Homo sapiens: one gene and its partners. The main gene of each other region encodes a partner of the protein of the gene in region 3 in a complex. Each region holds a gene or a part of one and is shown on either strand. Other genes may lie near its edges.

Region 1 (7,739 bases), on a different chromosome or scaffold from region 3:
AATGAATGACTCATAATGCCTAAACCTCACTGGGTGTTCCCCCTGTGCCAGCCACCACACTCAACATCTTACATGATTATCTCTTTTCGACCTCACAACATGAGGGACAGTCATTTTCCTCATTTTACAGAAATAGATATGTAGAAAATGACATGAATCTACAGCTCATAGCTGAGGTTAGGACACAAAAGTGTCCACAAGGCAGATTTCTTTGGTAACACATTTTGAAAGGATATTGGGGTAGGAGATGGAACAAGCTTTCAAGTTCTCTGCACTCTCTGCTGTGTTTGGTCGTCTCTATTTTTAGCATTGGTATCTTTTGTCTGAATTATAACAGCTTTGAATGTTAGTGTGGTCTTCACCAACTCTAGTAGTTTCAAGAGGTTATAATCTGGGTGACACGTGGGAGTGGGGGTGGTTGATCAATGTGACATAGGGGTAGGTGAGGGGCATGGTTTAAAGTTAGGGTGCCCAGGGAAAGTCACTCAAGCCTCAGTGTTTTCATCCCCAAACTGCTCTCTTAGAGTCCTTTGCAAATATCTATGTCTGATTCTAAATAGTGGGTTAAAGTGTCTGTAAGGTCCCAGGCTTGGCATTCATGGACACTCCTTGGGTTTTCTTTGTTAGAATTTGTGTCCTTCCATCTGCTGTTCCCTGCTGTAAATCTTGGTTATTTTGGTATTCAATAGCTTCTCTAGAAGAAGGCTAAATCAAAGGAAGCACAATGCAAAAACTACATATTGATGCTTCAAGGAAAACCCGGTGGTGTATGATCAAGGGGAGTTGCTGACTGTAACTGGCATTGGGTGCCCGTGGAAAGGGTGGGGACCTGGGTATGACGAGGGTTCAAATAACTACTCTGCTACTTTCTAGTGTAATGAAGAAAAGTCATTTAATCTCCTTGGTTTCCAATTTTCTCATTTATAAAATGAAGATAAAAATTTCTACTGCTCAGGGTTGTTGTAAAGACTCAGTGGTATAGAGAATGCAATGCTGAATTACGTCATATAGGCTGAATTTTAATCTGTTTAGAATAAGACAACTAAATGTCTACTGTCACCATGGAAGGTTGAGGAACAACTCTAAATCATCCCACAACCTAAGAAACCTGCTGTGCTGTTCTCTGGTTTTTGTAAGCTATTCATTCTTGTAAGTTATTCACTCTACTTAGAAGAATAAGAAAACATTCTTTTTAAATTATTTTCATCCTAATGTATGATCCAGCTTACTTGCAAGAATGGAAGGTCCCTGCTTTCCATAATACCACCTTTTCTGTAAACATCTGCCTTATTTCATCCCAAGTCCTTATAACATTGGCATTAGGAAAGAGGTCCTCAGGTCATACACTAGACTCTCTGTTATTCATTTTTAGACTTTCTAGAGCAATGGTTCTGACCTTTGTTGAGTCACGGAGCTCCTTGAAAATCCGATGAAAACTACAGTCCCTCTCTCCAGAAAAATTCTCATCTGTGCATAATTTTGCATATAATTTCAGATCATCCAAGACTCTACTGAAACCATTCATGGACAGAGGTTAAGAACCCTTGCCTAATGGTTGCAACATGGTCATAAGTAATACTGCTCCTTTAATCCTGATGATATTTTGTTATTATTAGCATGAAACAGTAATCTGTCATTTTAAGAGTTTGTTTTCCTAAATTATTTTCTTTATTTTTCCCACTGTGACCAAGAACAAAGGCATTTAGAGTAAGCCATCCAGAATTTACTTTATAGCTCGTGGCTCAGAACACAATTGGTAACTGATCTGTACTGCAAGCGCACTGACAGTAAACTAGTCATTGTTCCTAAGACTCACTAAGGTCAGCCAAGCCCTGAGCACATGTAACTCTCCATAGTTTCCACTTTAACCCTGGACATCTAACTACAAAGCAGAGCTAAAAATAGACCAAGCCGAGCACTTACACTCCACAGAGATGCATTTCCAACCCCAGGGGTTTTAATCAACAACACTGTTCACAATCCAAAGAGAATGCTTTCATTTAGCAGGAAAAAGTTGCTTCATTTTGAGCAAGCTAAAATACAACCTAAAGGAATTATGAAGACTTTGAAGTGTTCAAAAAATATTATCTGCACCTGTGTTCTAGGTCTAAAAAAAGAAAGACTAAAATACCTTCAGGATTGAGTTGGCTTTCTTTGCCTTTCACATTGAATTATTCAAAGGAAAACATATTGGCATTTTCCCTCCTCTTGTTTCTAGGTCAGCATGCTTCTACCAAAAAGTTTAAGTTGTTCAAACATAACAAGCCATAATAAATACCTACCTACAAAAATATATACATAGTAGGAAGGAAAAAGTAATGAGTTTGAACACAGAAAAATAATTACAGTTCCATTCCCTAGAGAAAGTTTATTATCTAAGGCTCTTTATGGCCAAAATGGATAAGTCTTCCGAGGATTATATAGAGCAAATGTTTTCACAATAAAATTTGCTCAAAGGTTTAATTATTAATGATATATCAGACTATGAATAAATATAAAGATTGCATATGTGGCTAAAAGAAGGATTTGTATAAAATTAAGATAATTTTAATATAAAATTTTGCAATAGAGTTGAGAAAATAAAGATCCTTTAAAAATACAAATTCATAAAACTCTAGATTCTACAGCACTGGGGAAATGAAATAAGTACACAAGGAGTTACATTGACAACTGCCTTATAATGAAAATGCCCATCTTCTATAAACCTAGCACAAACAGTCCAGGAAAATGGATATTTAAAATGTAATCTTTCTCTATTACATGTGCTTTCCTAAATGAGGTTCTTAAGCATATCTGCAGAACGTTTTTCAGGGAAACAAATTGAGGCTGTCATATACATATGGTATTAATTCCTCCCAGCTTTTATTTGGAAGCAGTTCGTCTGAGGCAAGTGCTAAAAGAAATGAATTCACCTCAGTGACAGTATTTCCCTATCTGCAGCCAATGTGTGATCCTTATGAATATCCCACGGCAGAATATGACCTATGAAATTGAGACTGCGAAGTGATCCTGTTCCATTTTAATGGAATTTCAGAGTGTTGCCATCATACACTCCAGGTAAACCCCAGCAGAGTCTGGCTCTGTTACTCAACCCAGCAGAAGCTCCCAGGAGGCCACCATCACTGATAAAATGATAGCTGTAGATCAGGTGCTGCTCAAACCCAACAGGGATTTCGGAATTTCTGCCTTTGGAAGCATGCCTCACTTCTAGTTAAACCGACCACTCTATTATTTTCTCAATAACTTTTTAGATTCCCAGAGAAAACAGCTTTTCTAGTTGCCCTACCAGATATTTTGTGGGCTTAAATTTTGTAAGACTGAAAAGTATGTTATGTTTATAGCAAAAAATGCAACCTATGCCAGGTACTTTGGAGAAGAGGAAAAGAGGCAGCAGGTGGTTATCGACCACATAGCCCAGAAATGTCTATGTTTTGAAGATCAGCAGTTTTTTTCTGTGGACTCTAGATAGATTTTAAATAAAAGTCACGTGTATCTTGCAAGTGTTTTTTAATCTCCATGAAATATTTCATTCTGAATATGAAGAAAATAAAACTTGCCTTGGACTGAGAAAGTAAATATCTGCCCAACATTCATCAGGCTGAAACAGCAGACACAGATAAGCCAACTGCAAAGTGAACAGGAAATGACATTTCTCCCAGGGACGTTGCTGTTGTAAAGTGTCATGGTAACGTCCTTCTTTGAGTGACTATAGATTCACTGAGAAACTTTCTTCTCTAATATCAAAGACAATCAGTGAGCTTGCTGTTTAAAATTATATCAGTAAGAATAAAACATCTCACTCTTGCCTGCAGGATCTTAGTTGCTTAATTGAAGCAGAGAAGCAACCTCAATTCCCACTTCTGGTGAGAAGTCCCAGATAAGGGGCTTGGGGATGCAACAGTCCACATTTATCTTAACTTTATTGTTTCCAAAGAAATAGCACCCTGGGTTCACTTTGCAGACCAGACCTGCGTCTAAGCTCCACTCTTCCTAGAAACCTAAAATAACCTTTTTTCCTCTAGTGTTTAGTCTCCTTCATTGCATTGGGTCAATAAACCTAATTTTGTCGGAATACAGGTTGGTTCCTATTATTCTTAGACTGACTGAGATAGGGCCATGTTTTTATCAAATGGTCGAGCTAAAGAAATTATCTGCTGCATAAATAGTAGTTCCGAATTTTAAGTATTTGCTATTAGATATTGAAAAAATATTTAATAGAATATATCTTCGCAGTAGTTCAGTCTCCTGTGCCCTGTGAATTTTAAATTGTATATATCAGCTTCTCATCTAGGCAGAAACATTCTGAGCGCAAGGAAACCCGCTGTGAATACTGAAATGATCTTTTCTCGCCCTGCTGCTGCTAAAGTAACCTGTGGCAAAATTTGCCTGCTCTTAGAAATAGCAAATTGGCAACACAAGCAAGACTCGCCCGTGAGAACACCAGGCTCTTAGTGAAGCTAAAAGAGACAATAAAGGGAAATAGGTAGGCACGGGTCCCGGGTCTCCCAAACAAGGTCTGTCTGCACACTTGGTTGAAATGCAGGGCTGCCGTATTTAAGAAGTAACTGGGAGAGGCTGGGCACGGTGGCTCACGCCTGTAATCCTAGCACTTTGAGAGGCCCAGGCGGGTGGAACACCTGAGGTCAGGGGCTCAAAACCAGCCTAGCCAACATGGTGAAACCCTGTCTCCACTAAAAACACGACATGAGCCGGGCGTGGTGGTGCACGCCTGTAATCCCAGCTACTCGGGAGGCGGAGGCAGGAGAATCGATTGAACCCAGGAGGCAGCAGAGGTTGCAGGGAGCCGAGATCACGCCATTGCACTCCAGCCTGGGCAACAAGAGCGAAACTCTGTCTCAAAAAACCAAAACCGAACCGAAACAAAGCGAGAAGTAACTGGGAGGGTTACTCAGAGCACACGCCTCTTCCTGAGGTTGGAAGGTTGGAGGAGGGCGTCCGACATACCCATGGGAGGAGCCATAATCGTAGGCTGAGGCTGCCTTCCGACTGACTTCAGAGCTCAGGGCGTGCTGCGAGGCCTGCTGCTGGGAGGAGGAGGCGGACGCCCGACGGAAGGCCTCGGACTCCCGGCGGTGCGCGGCGGAGGAGCGGCTGCTGTAGGCCGTGGAGCCCTGGGTGTAGACGGCGGAGCGTTTCTTCTCCCGCTGGTAGTGACTCACGGTGCTGCGCACGTCCTTGTTGCGGTAGCTGAGATCATAGTGCTGGTGGCACCTCTGATAAAAAGGCAAAGACATCCTGTGCCCCTTGAAGGAACCGGGCCACCTGAAGGAAAACAACACTTTTTGAGTGACTTATTAAGGAACAAATTCCATAGACCAAGTCATCTAAATCAATGTGTAAAAATCAATACTCTTGGCTGGGTGCGGTGGTTCATGCTTGAAATCCCAACGAGGATCTCTCGAGGCCGGGAGCTCAAAATCAACCTGGCCAACACAGTGAGACCCTATCTCTACAAAAAGAAAAAATTAGCCGGGTGTGGTGTGTGTGTCTGTAGTCCCAGCTACTCCGGAGGCTGAGGCAGGAGGATTGCTTGAGCCCAAGACTTCGAGGCTGCAGGGAGCTATGATTGACCATTGCACTCAGCTTGGGTGACAGAGCAAGACACTGTCTAAAAACAAAATAAAATAAAAATTAATATTCTTATCTTTTCCGAAGAGTAAACCAAAAAGGGTATGAAGTTTAACATAACTGGATATTCAAAAAACTCTCCACTTCATAGCCCAGATATGCCCCTCCTGTCATTGTACCTTTTTTTAAAAAAAATTGTATCTAGGAGGTTTTCCTAGAAAAACAAAGTTTTTCTACCCTGGCTATTGTGCTCTTTCCTCAGACTCTTCATAATACATATTTCTAATTTTCTGCCATTTCATTCTTCATTTGGGACTTCATTTGGGAGAATGTGGAAGGATAGAGAGTCATGTGGTGTTCATTCAACAAATAATTAGCAGCACCTACTGTGTGCCTGACGCCATCCAGCCCATGAAATCCAGTAGTGAGGCCGGGCACAGTGGGTCACGCCTGTAATCCCAGCACTTTGGGAGGCCGAGGCAGGCGGATCACTTGAGGTCAGGAGTTCAAGACCAGCCCGGCCAACATGGCGAAACCCCATCTCTACTAAAAATACAAAAATTAGCCTGGCATGGTGGTGGGCACCTGTAGTCCCAGCTACTCCGGTGGCTGAGGCAGGAGAATCACTTGAACTCAGAGGCGGAGTTTGCAGTGAGCCGAGGTTGCGCCACTGCACTCCATACTGGGCAACAGAGAAAGACTCTGTCTCACAATGAAACAAAACAAAAAAGAAATACAGTGGTAAACAAAACAGACAAAATGCCTGCTCTAATTACCTTGTACAGAACTGTACAGTCTACTGCAGGAGAAAGACAATAGAGAAAACAAGTAAGTCAAGTATGAGATAGGTTAATGTGCCAAGAACCAGAGAAAAACAAAGCAGGTAAGAGGGATGGATGCAATTTTCAACAGCCTCAGCAGGGATGGCTTCTCTAGACAGTAACATCTGAGCATGAGACTTTCTGGGGAAGAGTATTCCAGAAGGAAGACCAGAGCAAAGGCACTGAGGAATGAACATGACTATTGTGCTCCAGGAACCACTGATTGGCAGGGGTTCTGGGATGGGAGAGGTATAGGAGATGATGTCAAAGAGGTGAGCTATGTGCCTGGTGGAAGGGCCAGTAGTGTAGGGTCCTGTAGGTAGCAGTAAGGACTTCAGCTAATACTGTGAAAGGGCTGAGAGGCCATTGGAAGACTCTGAGCTGAGACTCATTCTCGCCGATGTCTGAAGATGGACTGTGGAGGGATGAGAGTGAAAGCCAGAAGACCTATGAAAGGGCTGAGTTGTATCCTCTCAAAATTCCTGTGTTGAAGCCCTAACCTCCAGTACCTCAACATGTGACCATATTTGGAGATAGGGTCCTTAAAGAGGAAGTTGAGTTAAAATTAGGCCATTAGGATGGGCCGTAATTCTATATGATGGTGTCTCTATAGGAAAAGAAAACCAAGATCCAAATATGTATATAACAGAGGGAAGGCCACGTGGAGACACAGGGAGAAGACAGCCATCCATGAGCCGAGAAGAGACCTGAGAAGAAACCACCCAGCTGACACCTTGATCTTGGACTTCCAGCCTCCAGAGTTGTAAGGTAATAAGTTTCTGTTGTTTAAGCCACCCAGTCCATGGCGCTTAGCTATGATAGCCCGGGCAAAAGAATACAAAGTCCACTGCAATGGTCCAGGCTAGAGGTGACAGGGGTAGCAGCGAAAGTGTGAGAGGTGGTCAAGCTCTGCACAGCTTTTGAAGTTAGAACCAATGGCATTTGCTGAAAGTTCTGAATTAGGATGTGAAAGAAAGAGATGACTCCAAGGTTTTTGCCTGAGCAATTGAAAGACAAGTTGCTATTAACTGAGATGGGGAGGAATGTGGGAAAGTATCAGTTTGGGGTGGAAGAACAGGAGATTGGTTTCAATGCTCTACATCTGAGATGCCTGTTAGACCTCCCAGAGGAGACATTTTAAGTGGGAAGCTGGATACATGACTCTGGAGTGCAGGAGAGAGGTCCAGGATGCAGATATACATTTGGGAGTCAACAGCATATAGGTGGTATCGAAAGCCAAGAAAATAGGTGAGAACCATTGTACACGGAAAAGAAAGTCCTAAAAGAAAACAGATGAGGACCATTATACACAGAAAAGGAAATTACAGG
Region 2 (8,163 bases), on a different chromosome or scaffold from region 3:
CCCCAGAGCATTCGTCAGTTGTCAAGTCCAAAGCTAAGAAATCAGTTCATAAATGTTTTTTGATTTGCATGTTGGCTCAACTCTTTTTAAGTCCAAGGAGGCAGTCCACATTAAGTGTGCAGGCAAAAAAGAGATGGAAAAAGGAGTCAGTTTCTCCCCTGCCCTCCCTCTCTCCCTTTATCAAGCTGAGCACCTTGAGTTGCATTTGAGGAAATGAAAACTATAGGTGACGCAACCCCATTGTGTCGAATTCTTTCTTTACATTTTTTGGGTTGCTACAAGGAATCAGTATTTTTTTTTTTTAATCAGATGGTGTGTGTGGTGGCTCACATCTGTAATCCCAGCATTTTGGGAGGCCGAGGCAGGAGGATCACTTGAGGCCAGAAGTTTGAGGCTGCAGTGAGTTATGATCATGCCACTGCACTCCAGCCTGGGCAACAGAGTGAGACCCTGTCTCTAAAAAATTTAAAAAAAAATCAAAGCATGAACAAAACTTTAACAAGAGAATAAAGAGGGTTGTTAGGTGGAGACGTGGCCAGCACTCCACCTCCACTTTGAAGTTCAGAGGCAGAGCATCTCTCCCTCCCACACTTGGAGGGAGGGCCCGTGGGCTGTCTCTAGCCCTCACCTCACAGCTGGTCTTCTTGCTCTCCCTGCTCAGCTTCTGCTCTGGCCTCGGCCCTCAGCACCCTGAGGTTCCTGGCCTCTCCTGCCCTGGGGACTCTCTTGGGCAGGGTTGGCAACCGGGGAGTGTGCCAGAAGGCTCTCCGGCGCTTGCAAAACCACGAAAAGCGTCCAGGGGTCTGGAACCTCACTGTCTTGACCTGTTTCCGGGCCCTGGCTCCTGGAGCTGTTCCTGTGGTCCCTTGGGCAGCTGAGACTTCAGCTTCCTGGATACCTGGGGCCCCTGCCCTCTGATTATGTGCAGCCTCTGCCCTCTGGCCAGCCCGGGCCTGTGCCCTCTGATTATCTGCACCCTGGACAGCTGGGGCCCTTTCCCTCTGGTCATGTACGGCCTCTTCCCTTTGATTATCTGTAACCTCTGACCCCTGGTCAGCTGGGGCCTCCGCCCTCTGATTATCTGCAGCCTCTTCCCTGTGGTTATCTGTGCCCTGTGACCTCTGGTCAGCTGGGGCCTCTGCCCTCTGATTATCTGCAGCCTCTTCCCTCTGGTTATCTGCAGCCTCTGCCCCCTCCTCAGCTGGGGCCCCTGCCCTCTGATTATCTGCAGCCTCTTCCCTCTGATTATCTGCAGCCTCTGCCCCCTGGTCAGCTGGGGCCCCTGCCCTCTGATTACCTGCAGCCCCTTCCCGCTGGTCAGCTATGGCCTCTTCCCTTTGACTATCTGCAGCCTCTCCCCCCTGATCAGCCTCGATGTCTGCCCCCTGACCTGTGGGTGCTGTCTGCTCCTTCCTGCGGCGCCGAAAGGAGGCCCAGTTGATCTTGGGCCTCCATCGCCTAGGGGAAGCCTGGGGCACACAAACATCTCCCGCGTTTCCCAAGCGATCCCCCGGGCTGGTGCCCTCTGGCGCCGATGATACCCCTGCGCTCTCCACTGCGGTGGAGGCCAGCCGGGCCTCGCCCACCCCGGGGCCCGCCCTCGGCGCCCAACCCTTCACCCTCCGCTTCAGCTTCCCCCAGGACACCTGGCTGACATACTCCCGCCACCTGTCCGCTTTGGACAGCTGAGGCCCCAGGTTGTCCTCAAACATGGGCACTGGCAGGTTGACGCGGCGGCGGGCAGGCGGCGCGCTGGGCTGCTTCTCCTGTCGCCGGAGGAAGGCCTCGACCAGTTCCTCATCATCCTCACTCTCCAGGTCGCTTCCCAGGAACTTGCTGCCCAGGTAGCTGACGGGCATTTTGCGCACCTTCTTGCCCCGCCGCGGGCCCTGGCGGCTCTTGTCTCTGGAGGTCTCGAAGTCGCTGAACTCGCTGTCGCTGGCGTTGCTGCTGTCGTACGTGCCCACGACCAGCCGGGGCGGAGGAGTCACCATCTGCTGCACTCTCCTCCTCACTCGGGGCTCCTTGGGCTTTTTGGGGGGCTGGGGCGGGTGCGGGGTGCTCTTCTCCATGATGCGGGCCACGTCCTCCAGGGTGCGGCCCTCTTCTTCCAGGAACTGGGTCAGCCGCTCCCGAAATTCTGCTTCCTTGGTGGCGGGCTTAGAGATGACTCTCCAGACGCCCCCAGCCAGCCTGACCTCCCGGGGGATGAGCAAATAGTCGACGTCCTCCCCGATCTGCAGCATCCCCACCGTGGAGTCCTCCTCCTTGCGGAACACCTTGCCGATCTTCTTAAATGTCCCCACGGGCTTTAGGGCTTCCACGAGGACGTCCAAATCCACATCTTTGCAGACATCGGGGACGCTCCAAAGAATGAGGCAGTCGGGGGACGGCAGGAAGCCCCAGGGGAACCAGCCCCCCACGTGGCTTTTCTCGAGAGTCTTTAAGATCTCCAGGGTGATATCTGGGGTGAGGGGGCAATGAGCCCCAACAAACTACTGTAGCCCTTAGTCTTGAGGGAGGGACTGGATGGGGGGAGTTCCAGCAACGCTGACCGGAGAGTCTCACCTCCCTAGCCAGGGACGAGCCAAACGCCTCCAATCTCTTCGCCTGCAACAAGTACAGTCTTGACCAAGTCCGGCTCCCCCACCAAGGACTTGGGGGAATCAATTTCCAGGATGCCTACGTGAGCCGGGGGCGAGGTCAGTCCCAAGGCTCAAGGCCCACTCCAAGCTGGAAACGTGGTGTCCCAGCTCCAAGTTGGGGCGCGCGGGCTGCCAGCGACTCTTCCTGCCCCAGGCCCCAGGGACGCGGCTGGAACTTGGGACAGGACTTCGCAGACAAAGACGGTCCAGTCGAAGCTATTCAATATGGCCGAGGCGCTGGGAGGCCCCAGCCCGGGCCTCCAGTAGGGTCCCCCGCCCCCAGGCAGGCCGCCACCCAGCTCCAGGCTGACCTTGACGCGCCGCAGCCTGCCAGCCCGCGCGCTTAGAGCTCTGCACCGTGGAGCGCGCGGGCAGGAAGTTCCTCCTCGCCCTCCGCCAGAATGAGGCCCACCTTCCCCCGTCTCATCTTACACTCCCAGACTCTGGAAGACTGACAGGGGGGCTGTCCACTCCCTTCGGGGCGGCCTCCTTCCCCTCCCCCACAGGGGTGTGGCCGCGCCCCGGGCCTAGCTGGGCCCATTGCTTCCCAGCGAAGCGGCAGTGGCCCACGTCAGCACCTTTCCTGAAAGGCAGCGGTTCCCAAACCTGCCATCCGAAATGTGCAAGTTTCCAGCCAAGTCCGGGAGGTGGGTGTGCTAGTGGATTCTACTTTTTGAGAGCCACTGGCACCACAGATTAGCATTTTAAATTCACGCGACTATCGGTACCCGTACACCTATATGCGTGGGTAGAGAAATGGGTACCTGACTGCAACAGTCCCACTGTGGCGCTTGGCAGGTCAGGGCTCAATACATATTTTTGAGGGGATGAATAAACCCAAATGTTCATGGCCAGGCGCGGTGGCTCATGCCTGTAATGCCAGCACTTTGGGAGGCCCAGGTGGGTGGAACACTTGAGGCCAGGAGTTCGAGACCAGCCTGCCCAACATGGTGAAACCCTCGTCTCTACCCCGGGTGTGGTGGTGCGCGTGCGTAGTCCCAAGCTACGCGAGAGGCTGAGGCAGGAGAATGGCGTGAACCTGGGAGGTGGAGGTTGCAGAGATCGCGCCACTGCACTCCGGCCTGCGCAACAGAGGGAGACTGTCTCAAAAAAACAAAAGTGCAAAAAAACCCCTACAAATAAACAACAACAAAAAACCCTAAAAGTTCACGAGTAGAGACTGCCTCTATTTTATGGTAGTATCTTACAGTGAAATATTTTGCAACTTCGAAAAAAGAATGAGATGGCTAAGGATAGGCACGGTTTATGAGGCGCTTCCTATGTAGTAGGCACCATTCCCAGTGCTTTCTATGAATGAACTCAGGAAATCCTTGCTATAACAGGAGACTGGTAGCATGAGTACAATTCCCATTAGACAGCTGAGGAAACTGAGGCCCAAGGACATAAAACCACACTCTCAAGGTCACAGCCATGGGGAGTGGTTGAGTTTGGATTTGAATCCAGAATAGTCTGCCTTTTGTGTCGACCAAAGAGTCAAGATGGCCAGGCGCGGTGGCTCACGCCTGTAATCCCAGCCCTTTGGGAGGCTGAGGCGGGCAGATCACGAGGTCAGGAGATCAAGACAAGACCATCCTGGCTAACGCGGTGAAACCCTGTCTCTACTAAAAATGCAAAAAAATTAGCCGCGCGTGGTGGTACGTGCCTGTAGTCCCAGCTACTCGGGAGGCTGAGGCAGAAGAATCTCTTGAACCCGGGAGGCGGAGGTTGCAGTGAGCCGCGATCGCACCACTGCACTCCAGCCTGGACGACAGAGCAAGACTCCGTCTCAAAAAAAAAAAAAGAAAGAAAGAAAGAAAAAAAAGAATCAAGATGTGAACCAATGCTAGTCGCATTCGGCCGGGAGCTCGGTTCTTGAGACGCGAGTCTACCGAAGCTCCCGCCAGTTGAGAGGCGAGTCTGCCGAAGCTCCCGGCCGAAAAAGCCAAATCCTTCCTTAACCCAGTGTCTGAGGGGTTTTGTCCGTGGCTCCTCCTGCTACAGGACATGCGACTAGCATTGGTCCACATCTTTGGAACCAGGCATCCAGAGACATGTTGAATAGGCCTCGTTGTTAGGAACCCTCAGAGGTACATGGTAAGGCCAGTGCCATCAATCATCTTTTTACAGACGGTGAAACTGAGGCTGGTCTGAAGTTGCACAGCTCTGAGTGGTGGATCTAATATAATATTAGAACCAGATCTTGGGCACTAGCATTTAAAACACTAGCTGACGCTAAAGACACAGCTAATCCCCTTCTCCTAAATGTGTTGCACCATTTAACCACTTAGCAGCCACAATACTTGCAGCCACTCTTGCCTGGATGTGTACAAAGCCCCCTCACTGGGCTTCCCGCCTCCCCATCACTGCTTGCAATCCAGGCCCCATCCAGAAGCTGGGGGCATCTTTTAAAAACTTAGGTCCGATCTGTCTCTACTCTTTTGAAAATTCTCCATCTCAGGCTGGGCGCCGTGGCTCACGCCTTTAATCCAGCACTTTGGGAGGCTGAGGCGGGCGGATCACCTGAGGTCCGGAGTTTGAGACCAGCCTGGTCAACATGGCAAAACCCCATCTCTACTAAAAAATACAAAAATTGCCGGGCGCGGTGGCTCACGCTTGTAATCCCAGCATTTTGGGAGGCTGAAGCGGGTGGATCACCTGAGGTCAGAAGTTTGAGACCAGCCTGGCCAACATGGTGAAACCCCGCCTCTACTAAAACTACAAAACTAGCCTGTCTTGGTGGCGCATGCCTGTAATCCCAGCTACTCCGGAGGCTCAGGCAGGAGAATCGTTTGAATCCGGGATTCAGAGGTTGCAGTGAGCTGAGACCGTGCCATTGCACTCCAGCCTGGGCAACAAGAGCGAAACTCCGTCTCAAAAACAAACAAACAAAAAAAAGAAACGAACAAAAATATAAGAATTAGCCGGGCATGGTGACACATGCCTGTAATCCCAGCTACTGGGGAGGCTGAGGCAGAAGAATCGCTTGAACTGGGAGGCGGAGGTTGCAGTGAGCCAAGATCGCGCCACTGCCCTCCACCTTGGGCGACAGAGCGAGACTCCGTCTCAAATAAATAAATAAATGTGATCTTATTTAACTCATAAAGGAACCAGGCAAATTTTTAAAGAGGGAACGGAGGAAAAAGAGACGGGCCAGAGGGAAAGAAAAGATGTGGGGGCTTAGGGGACGTTAAGGTCTCAGCGAGCGGCCTGTTCACAATTACCGGCTTATTCAGGTTGTTTTTCTCTTGCAGAGCCAGGTCGTTGGGCTTCGCTGGATTTTTCTCCTCTTTCTCCCTGGCTCAGTCCCAGCCGCCGCGCTCAGCCCCCGGGCCTCCCGCGGCCCCGCCCCTCGCCTCCCCCTTCGCACAGTTTGTGGCCTCCGCAGTCCGGCGGTCTCCATGGCAACCACGGGACGCGCTCCTCCGCGCGGATCAAAACTAAGCGGGTGGGGCGGAGGCGGAGGCGAGGCTGCAGGGAGATGGTGGGGGTGGGGGCGCCACGGAGGACGAGGGCAGGAGCTCCTCTTTTCTGCCCCTGGTGCCTCCCTTAGGCCTCATCCCCAAAGCCAGCTTCCCTGAAAAGCTGTTTGTAGAAACCAAAAAATGAAAAATCCTAAGGACACCTAGGTTTCAGGAATGCTGATTAAAGAATCGCAAGTCTGAGGGCTCATGACAGTGCCTTCCAAGTGGTGACCTCGCAGATGAGACGTTTGGGTTTTGTAGTCATAAAAGGGCTTTCGTTTTGTTTGTTTGTTTTGTTTTTTGTTTGTTTTTCTTTTTTTATTTGGTGGGGGAGCAGGGAGCGGCGCAAGGAGGATAATCTAAGAAATGAAAATCCCAAATGTTCCATATTTTTGCAAAAATCGTCAACCTCCGGCCGGGGGCGGTGACTCATGCCTGTAATCCCAGCACTTTGGGAAGCCAAGGCAGGAGGATCGCTTGAGCCCAGGAATTGGAGACCAGCCTGGGCAACATAGCGAGACTCCGGTCTCCACAAAAAATTTAAAAATTAGCCGAATATTATGGTGTGCGCCTGTGGTCTGAGCTACTCGGGAGACTGAGGTGGGCCTATCGCTTGAGCCCGGGAGGTCAGGGCTGCAGGAAGCGGAGATCGCCCATCTGCACGCCAGCCTGGGCAACAGAGCGAGACTCCATCTCAAAAAAAAAAAAAATTGCCAGCCCCTGAACGGTTCAGCTGTGGGTGTTTTTAATTGCACAGATCTCTGGCAGGTGAGACCCTTCTCCAGCCATCACAGAATAAAATAATAAAAACGAGAACTGTAGCCTCACTTTTGCATTTGTTTAAAATAAATGGAAAGTTGGAAAAGAATGGGGAAGAGAAACAAAACACGGCTGAAATCCCTCTACCCAGCTACATTTTGTTGCCATTTAAAAAAAAAATGGGACACGCGGGCCAGGGGCAGTGGCTCAAGCTTGTAATCCAAGCAATTTGGGAGGCCTACGCGGGCGATCGCCTGAAGTCAGGAGTTCGAGACCAGCCTGGCCAATATGATGAAACCCCACCGTCTCTACTAAAAGTACAAAAATTAGCTGGGCACGATGGCAGGCGCCCGTAATCTCAGCTACTAGGGAGGCTGAGGCAGGAGAATCGCTTGAACCTGGGAGGCACAGGTTGCAGTGAGCTGAGGTGGTGCCACTGTACTCCAGCTTGGGCAACAGAGTAACACCCTGTCTCAAAAAAGGATACACGGTCAGAAAAAGCAAAAGTTACAGAAAGGTAAATTTTTTTCAAAAAAGGATTCTTCTCCCCAAACCCCACCTTCCAGCCTCTCCCCAAAAAGTAACCAGTTAAATATCTCTGTATTTTTCCAGAGAAAAAATGCTTGCATTAGTGTATGTGTTAATTTTATTTTATTTTATTAATTTATTTTTTTTTTTTTGAGACGGAGTTTTGCTCTTATTGCCCAGGCTAGAGTGCAATGGCGCGATCTCCGACTCACCACAACCTCCACCTCCCGCGTTCAAGCAATTCTCCCGCCTCAGCCTCCAGAGCAGCTGGGATTACAGGCCAACCCACCCAGCTAATTTTGTATTTTTAGTAGAGACGGGATGTCTCCATGTTGATCAGGGTGGTCTCGATCTCGAACCTCAGGTGATCCACCCACCTTGGCCTCCCAAAGTGCTGGGATTACAGGCGTGAGCCACTTCACCTGGCTTTTTTTTTTATGTTAATTTTAGAATTTATCTCACAGAGATTTTTTTCCCCCATCATCCTAAATTATTTTCATCACAGCACTTACCACTTTCTGTTTTTGTTTTTTTTTTTCTTTGAGACAGGGTCTCACTCTGTCACCCAGGCTGAAGTGCAGTGGCATGATCATGGCTCACTGTAACCTCGAAATCCTGGGCTCAAGCAATCCTCCCACCTCAGCCTTCTGAGTGTCTGGGGCTACAGGTGTGTGCCACCATGCCTGGCTATTTTTAAAAATTTTTTGTAGAGAGGTATTCTCATTATGTTGCCCAGACCGGTCTTGAACTCCTGGCCTCAACTGATGCTC
Region 3 (5,790 bases):
CATGAAAATTCTTACACAGAGCTTGGTGAATGGTTGTCATTTGTGACACATCTCTTCTAACTTATTTCATTCAAGAAATCATCACAATAAACCTGTGTCCCAATGTTATTCACCTTGTACAGCTGGGGCAACTGGGGTCCAGAGAGGTCAGGCCATTTGCCAAAGATCACATAGCACACAAACTATGTGGTAGAGCGAGGTTCCATTCCTAGTGTGTCTGACTCCAAATTCCGTGCTCCTTCAAGTGTCACAGCACCCCTCACCCAGACTCCACGACCCCCTAACCACACTTCTCCCCCTTCCTGTGCCCTCATCTCCTAACCCTGATACAGCCCTCCCCCCGCCAAATCTGTCCACCGTGCTCCTTTCTTCCTGCACCCTGGTTCCGAACTTTTTTGGTCAGGACCTTAGGTTGGGTGTTCAGGGGTGTAGGCAGGGCCAAGGGATGAGGATTGACTGCAACCCCTGCCCAGAGCTGGAGGCCTCATCCTCCCTCTCTCCATCTCCCCCGGCCAGCGAGGCAGCTGAGGGTGCTGCGGCCTCTGGAGGACGTGACCATCAGTGAGGGGGGCAGTGCCACCTTCCAGCTGGAGCTGTCCCAGGAAGGTGTGACCGGGGAGTGGGCCCGGGGTGGAGTACAGCTGTATCCAGGACCCAAGTGTCACATCCACTCGGACGGCCACCGTCACCGACTGGTACTCAATGGCCTGGGCCTGGCCGACTCAGGCTGTGTCTCCTTCACAGCGGATTCCCTGCGCTGCGCAGCCAGACTCATTGTGAGAGGTGTGGCCTCCAGGACCACAGCCTGCCTGCTGACCTGTGTGGCCCTACTTACCCCAGGCATGAATACTGACCCCCAACTCGTGTGACCCCCACTGACCATGCCTGTCTCAGTGTGGCCCTCATTGACATCCCTGCCAGAGTGTGATCCCCCTGACTCATAGGCCCTGTGTGGCCCCAGAGTCCTCTGCCTGGGTGTGGCCCCTGACTGCCCAAGGCTCAGCCAACCACTGACTCTGCTACCAAGAGCATGCCTTTGCCATTGTGGTCACTGCTGTCTGCCCGCCTGCACACCACCCCACTGACCACTCTAACTGTGACCCTACTGGCTACACTGTCTGCCGTGGCTCCCTCTGCCCGCCTAAGTGTGGGCCCCGTGACCACTCCAGTCCCTTGAATCCACTGACTGCCTACGGGCGACATCACTAGCAAGTCTGCTTGAGTGTCCCCCATTTTTACTTCCAGTCCCAGGATGTTCCCACTGACCACTCCACTGGCATCTCTGCTTGTTTCCCCATTGCCCTCTGGCCCCCAGCTTCTCCCCCACTGACCACCTTAAAGTGTGACTCCCAGTTGGCCACTCCTAACCCATTGGCCCTGTGGCCCTGCCCACCTACATCCCCCCCACCCCCACCACTGACAGATCCTTCTTGGACCACTTGTCCCAGCTCGAACCCCACTCGCTAGTGTCCTCTACTGCCTGTTGTGCCCAAGTGTATGTCCTCCTTGTCCCTGCAAGATGGGTCCCCATCCTGCTCCCTCTGCACTGTCCTCCCTCTCCCACCCCCAGAGGTCCCAGTGACCATCGTGCGGGGGCCACACGACCTAGAGGTGACCGAGGGCGACACAGCTACGTTCGAGTGCGAGCTTTCCCAAGCTTTGGCTGATGTTACCTGGGAGAAGGTCAGATCCCAGCCCCAGCCAAGCCCACTTCAGTGTAACACCAACGATAATAATGCCCCAGACAGAAACAGCTAATATTCCTTGAGCGGATGTGCCTGGCACTGTGCTAAGATTTGCATTATATTTAATCCCTTACTCCAAGGACAACTCTAGGAGGTAGGTCTTGTCACTGTAATACCTATCAGGAAACTGATGCTCAGTGGGAAAAATTACCTACCCAAGGGCAGACAACAGGTAGAGCCCATATTCGAATCCAGGTTTGCCTAACTCCAGAATCCGTGCCCATGTCCCCTGTGATCGATACCTGGCTCTGGGCTTCCCGAGTGCCTTGGCGGCCCTAAGGTCCCCAAAGGGTGACGCTTTTTCAAAGAGGCTCCTGGCACGACCCCAAAGGCTTGGGGACAGTCCGACCCCAGCCTGGGAACACGAGACACGCATAAACGCGCCTCGAGACCGCTTGGCATCAACAAAGGGTGCGCCGCCTGCCAGGGCCGGGGTCGCCTGTGCCCAGCCGGGCTCGCCCCGACCCTCTGCAACTCCCGCCCCTAGGACGGGAACGCGCTTACGCCTAGCCCGCGGCTCCGGCTCCAGGCCCTCGGCACGCGCCGCCTTCTCCAGCTGCGACGCTGCGGCCCCTCGGACGCCGGGACCTACAGCTGCGCGGTGGGGACGGCCCGCGCCGGACCGGTCCGCCTGACCGTGCGCGGTGGGTACGGGGTGATGTGGAGGCTGGGCACTGCTTTGGGCGCGAGACTTGCGGAGCTGTCTTCCCCGGACCCTGATGACCGCGCGTGCTTCTAGAAAGGGGGCGTGGAGGGGGCGTGACCGGTAACTGCCCTCTGCCCCGCCCCGCTCACGCCCCGGGCTCCGCCCCAGAGCGTACTGTGGCGGTACTCTCCGAGCTGCGGTCGGTGAGCGCCCGCGAAGGCGACGGCGCTACGTTCGAGTGCACCGTGTCGGAGGTCGAGACCACGGGGCGCTGGGAGCTCGGAGGCCGCCCGCTGAGACCCGGAGCCCGCGTCCGCATCCGACAGGAAGGTCTGCCCGCCTGGTTACCCTTTCGGGCCCCTCGCTGCCCCGCCCAGGCTCGAACAGATCCCGCCCCACCGGGACAAGCCCCGCCCCTGGCTCCGACGGGCCCCGCCCCACGGCCCTGTGAGCCTCGTCCCTGTTCTTTCCCCCGCCCCCAGCCCCTAGTCCCGGACCTCTAGGCTTCCCGCTCCGCATCCCTGTTCCGCCCACCCTAGCATACACTAACGGCGTCCGAACCGACCCAGGGGCCTGCTGGGCCCCCACCTTCGTCCCCAACGCTCCTCAGAGGTGGCTCCGGCCTCGCTAGCGACCCCCTCACCCCCAGGGAAGAAACACATTCTGGTGCTTAGCGAGCTGCGCGCCGAGGACGCCGGTGAAGTCCGCTTCCAGGCGGGGCCCGCCCAGTCCCTGGCTCTACTGGAAGTGGAGGGTAAGCACCTGGGGTGGGAGCGACAGAGAGTGTACATCCTGTCTCTCCTGCCATGGGACTGACGGACTTGGGGCTGGCCCCAAGAACGCTGCCTCTCTCTTCCCTTCCCCCCGAGGGGCTCTCCTGGGCCGGGTCACAGAGGGCAGCGCGTTTCCCCGGCAAGAGGAGACTTTGGGTCTGAGGTGCAAGGGAACGGACTGGTGGCATAGAGGGCTAAGGCCAGGAGTGGAGACTTCAGGGAGGGAAGATGCATCTCTCCTCCTGGGGGCCATGCGTGTCCCTATTAACTTAAGCCCCCGCCCCCTACCCCCAGCATTGCCTCTCCAGATGTGCCGCCACCCCCCTCGCGAGAAGACCGTTCTGGTGGGCCGCCGGGCGGTGCTGGAGGTGACTGTGTCCCGCTCGGGGGGCCACGTGTGCTGGCTGCGGGAGGGGGCCGAGCTGTGCCCGGGAGATAAGTATGAGATGCGCAGCCACGGCCCCACCCACAGCCTGGTCATCCATGACGTTCGACCTGAGGACCAAGGCACTTACTGCTGCCAGGCCGGCCAGGACAGCACCCACACACGGCTGCTGGTAGAGGGTGAGTAAAGCCAACTGGGCAGCGGCAGGAGGGTGAGGGCGCCTGGGAGCTGATGGGTTAAGCCACACCTATGGGAGGCTTTCCAGAACTTGGGGTGGCAACGGGTCCTGGGATACGTAGGAGGTGGGGATGGGGGAGGGGAGGGGTAGAGCACACCCAGGGCTGGAAAGCCCTGGAACTGCTTGGCTCAGATCAGCTGCTCCTGGTCAGCTGTTCCCACCTTTCTACGCCCCTTCTTGCCAGGCTTCTCCTCTCTCCTGCCACTGGACCATGTTTGTCTCTCTTGAACAGCCCTGTTTCTACCAGTTCCTTTCCTCCCCACTTCACCAACACTGCCTTCCTCCAGCCTGTCCCTCCTCCTTCCTGCCCTCTGCCCAGCTTGCCTCTGCCCATCTCAGCAAGTTCCATGTCAGCCTTGGCAGAAGCCTCTTTCTTTCCTCTTCCCCATAAGAGACATCCCACCTTCTATCCCAAATCCCAGCATTCCCTTCAGGTGCCGCGCTGTGCCCCACCCCTAGCTGACCCCCACCTTCCTGCCGCCAAGACAGCCCTAACCAAGGCCCAGAAAGGGTAGGGCAGAACCTGGGGGCCCAGCTCTTTGTGTACTGGTGTCCAGGCTCTGCCAGGGGAGAGGAAGGTGGTACCCCCTTCTCTCCCCAGCCCCATGTGGAGTCATTCCTCTGCAGGCAACTAGGAGAACCTAACCAGGCCAGGCGGGTGCCCTTGGACAGCTTGGAAGGCGTTTGCCCTTACCCTGGGCAGGGGTAGAGAGACAAGGAACAATAAAAGTGCTACAGCTCATTTCCTTGCCTCTCTGAGTGATGTGGGGGGGCAGACCTTGCCTGGAGCCCCTGTGCAGTGAGCGACACTGGGGACCGAGGGCTGTAGTGCTTGTACCTGGCCCATGAAAGTGCCAGCCACCAAAGACCACCATTCCTGGCAGAGGCCACACAGTTTGGCACATTTATAAAAGATGTAAAACAGAGTGGGGTGGGGGAGACAGAAGCATGAGGTGTCTAGGTTGGCATGACAGACACCAGACATGCACCGTGCATTTAAACCCCTCCCCAACTCCCTTCCCAACCCAGCCCAGAGCAGCACCCCCCCACCCCCATCTCCTGCCACTGCCCTCAGGCTGGTGGCTTTACAGAGGCCAGGGGACCAGGGTGAGGGATGCTACAGTTTGCCCCATAGACAAGGACAAGAACCCTTAGATGAGTCTGGCTGCGAGGCAGGGCGATGGGAAGGAAGGTAGCCCCTCCGCGGAGACATGCAGGAGGTGGCCCATGGGACCTTGGCAGGGAGTGAAGAGGTGGGGCTGAGCCTGGAGAAACCCTACCAGTCAGAAATCTAAGGCAAGGGTCCCAGCGTCCCCTCCAAGCCTGCCCACCCCCACACACATACACACAGACACACGGGCAACACACTCACAACCCTGAGCACACCCCAATGGGGTTCACACCCCGAGTTCCTCAGGAGCCTCTTGGGAGCTTGGGAGGGGGCTTTCCTCTCAGGCCAAGACTCGCCTGAGACAATCCTCCCTTCTAGTGACCAGGCCAGCCCTCTCCAGGCTGGGGAGAGGGACAGCCAAAGCCAGGAGGCTGAGTGGCAGCCTAGCAGGCCTCCTCGAGCTGGCAGAGCTGGTGACTGCAGAGTCTAGACAGACAGATATGGCTATACCCGCACTGGGGGGCCTGAGCAGGCTGTCAGAGGTCCCCGGGACCCATACTCATAGTCCGCATCTGTGGGTGAGGCCATGAAGGAGCTCAGGGAGCTCCCGGTCTGCCGGTCTCGGAAGCTCTGGATATAGCTCTGTGGGGGAGCAAACATAGGTGTGAGTCCCACCGCAGAATCCTGCCCTAAAAGCCACCTCTTCCTGAATTCCCACAAGCCTGACACTTCTATAGACTGCCATAGACCCAGAGTCCACAGCCCTGAGACCCCACCACATACCATATCCCACTTAAAACCCATACTCAGGAACCTTTCCCCCAATTCCCCCACCAGCTGGACCCGCCAAGCCCCTGGTGCATGGGCTCCGATGCATGGACAAACAGTTCAT

The links.
Region 1: the proteins of OBSL1 (region 3) and MYOM1 are in contact, whole or in part, in a crystal structure (PDB 5FM5), measured with the Homo sapiens proteins. Residues at the interface, in NP_056126.1 of Homo sapiens: Pro243, Lys253, Phe255, Val257, Asn258, Gly260, Lys261, His262, Ala263, Lys264, Phe265, Arg266, Cys267, Tyr268, Val269, Met270, Gly271, Lys272, Pro273, Pro275, Trp279, Lys305, Tyr308, Tyr317, Cys319, Ala321, Arg322, Asn323, Ser324, Ala325; in NP_003794.3 of Homo sapiens: Arg616, Pro617, Ser618, Ala619, Pro620, Trp621, Thr622, Gly623, Gln624, Ile625, Ile626, Val627, Thr628, Glu629, Glu630, Glu631, Pro632.
Region 2: OBSL1 (region 3) and CCDC8 share a complex: the UniProt entries of both Homo sapiens proteins name them as parts of the 3M complex.

What each region holds. Positions count from the first base shown.
Region 1 is NC_000018.10:3,209,969-3,217,707, forward strand, and holds part of MYOM1 (myomesin-1), read right to left. Parts: intron 5,284-7,739; coding exon of another isoform or gene 5,256-5,283; coding exon 4,966-5,255; intron 1-4,965. UniProt on the Homo sapiens protein: Major component of the vertebrate myofibrillar M band. Binds myosin, titin, and light meromyosin. This binding is dose dependent.
Region 2 is NC_000019.10:46,410,565-46,418,727, forward strand, and holds the start of CCDC8 (coiled-coil domain-containing protein 8), read right to left. Parts: upstream 3,001-8,163; 5' UTR 2,247-3,000; coding exon 630-2,246; 3' UTR 1-629. UniProt on the Homo sapiens protein: Core component of the 3M complex, a complex required to regulate microtubule dynamics and genome integrity. It is unclear how the 3M complex regulates microtubules, it could act by controlling the level of a microtubule stabilizer.
Region 3 is NC_000002.12:219,549,467-219,555,256, reverse strand, and holds the end of OBSL1 (obscurin-like protein 1 isoform 1 precursor), read left to right. Parts: exon of another isoform or gene 1-108; intron 109-516; coding exon 517-783; intron 784-1,570; coding exon 1,571-1,683; intron 1,684-2,232; coding exon 2,233-2,389; intron 2,390-2,559; coding exon 2,560-2,721; intron 2,722-3,040; coding exon 3,041-3,145; intron 3,146-3,458; coding exon 3,459-3,728; intron 3,729-3,971; coding exon of another isoform or gene 3,972-4,015; exon of another isoform or gene 4,016-4,388; coding exon of another isoform or gene 4,389-4,414; coding exon 4,415-4,422; coding exon of another isoform or gene 4,423-4,432; 3' UTR 4,433-4,529; downstream 4,530-5,790. Other genes in the region: TMEM198 (transmembrane protein 198), read right to left, coding at 5,403-5,540. UniProt on the Homo sapiens protein: Core component of the 3M complex, a complex required to regulate microtubule dynamics and genome integrity. It is unclear how the 3M complex regulates microtubules, it could act by controlling the level of a microtubule stabilizer.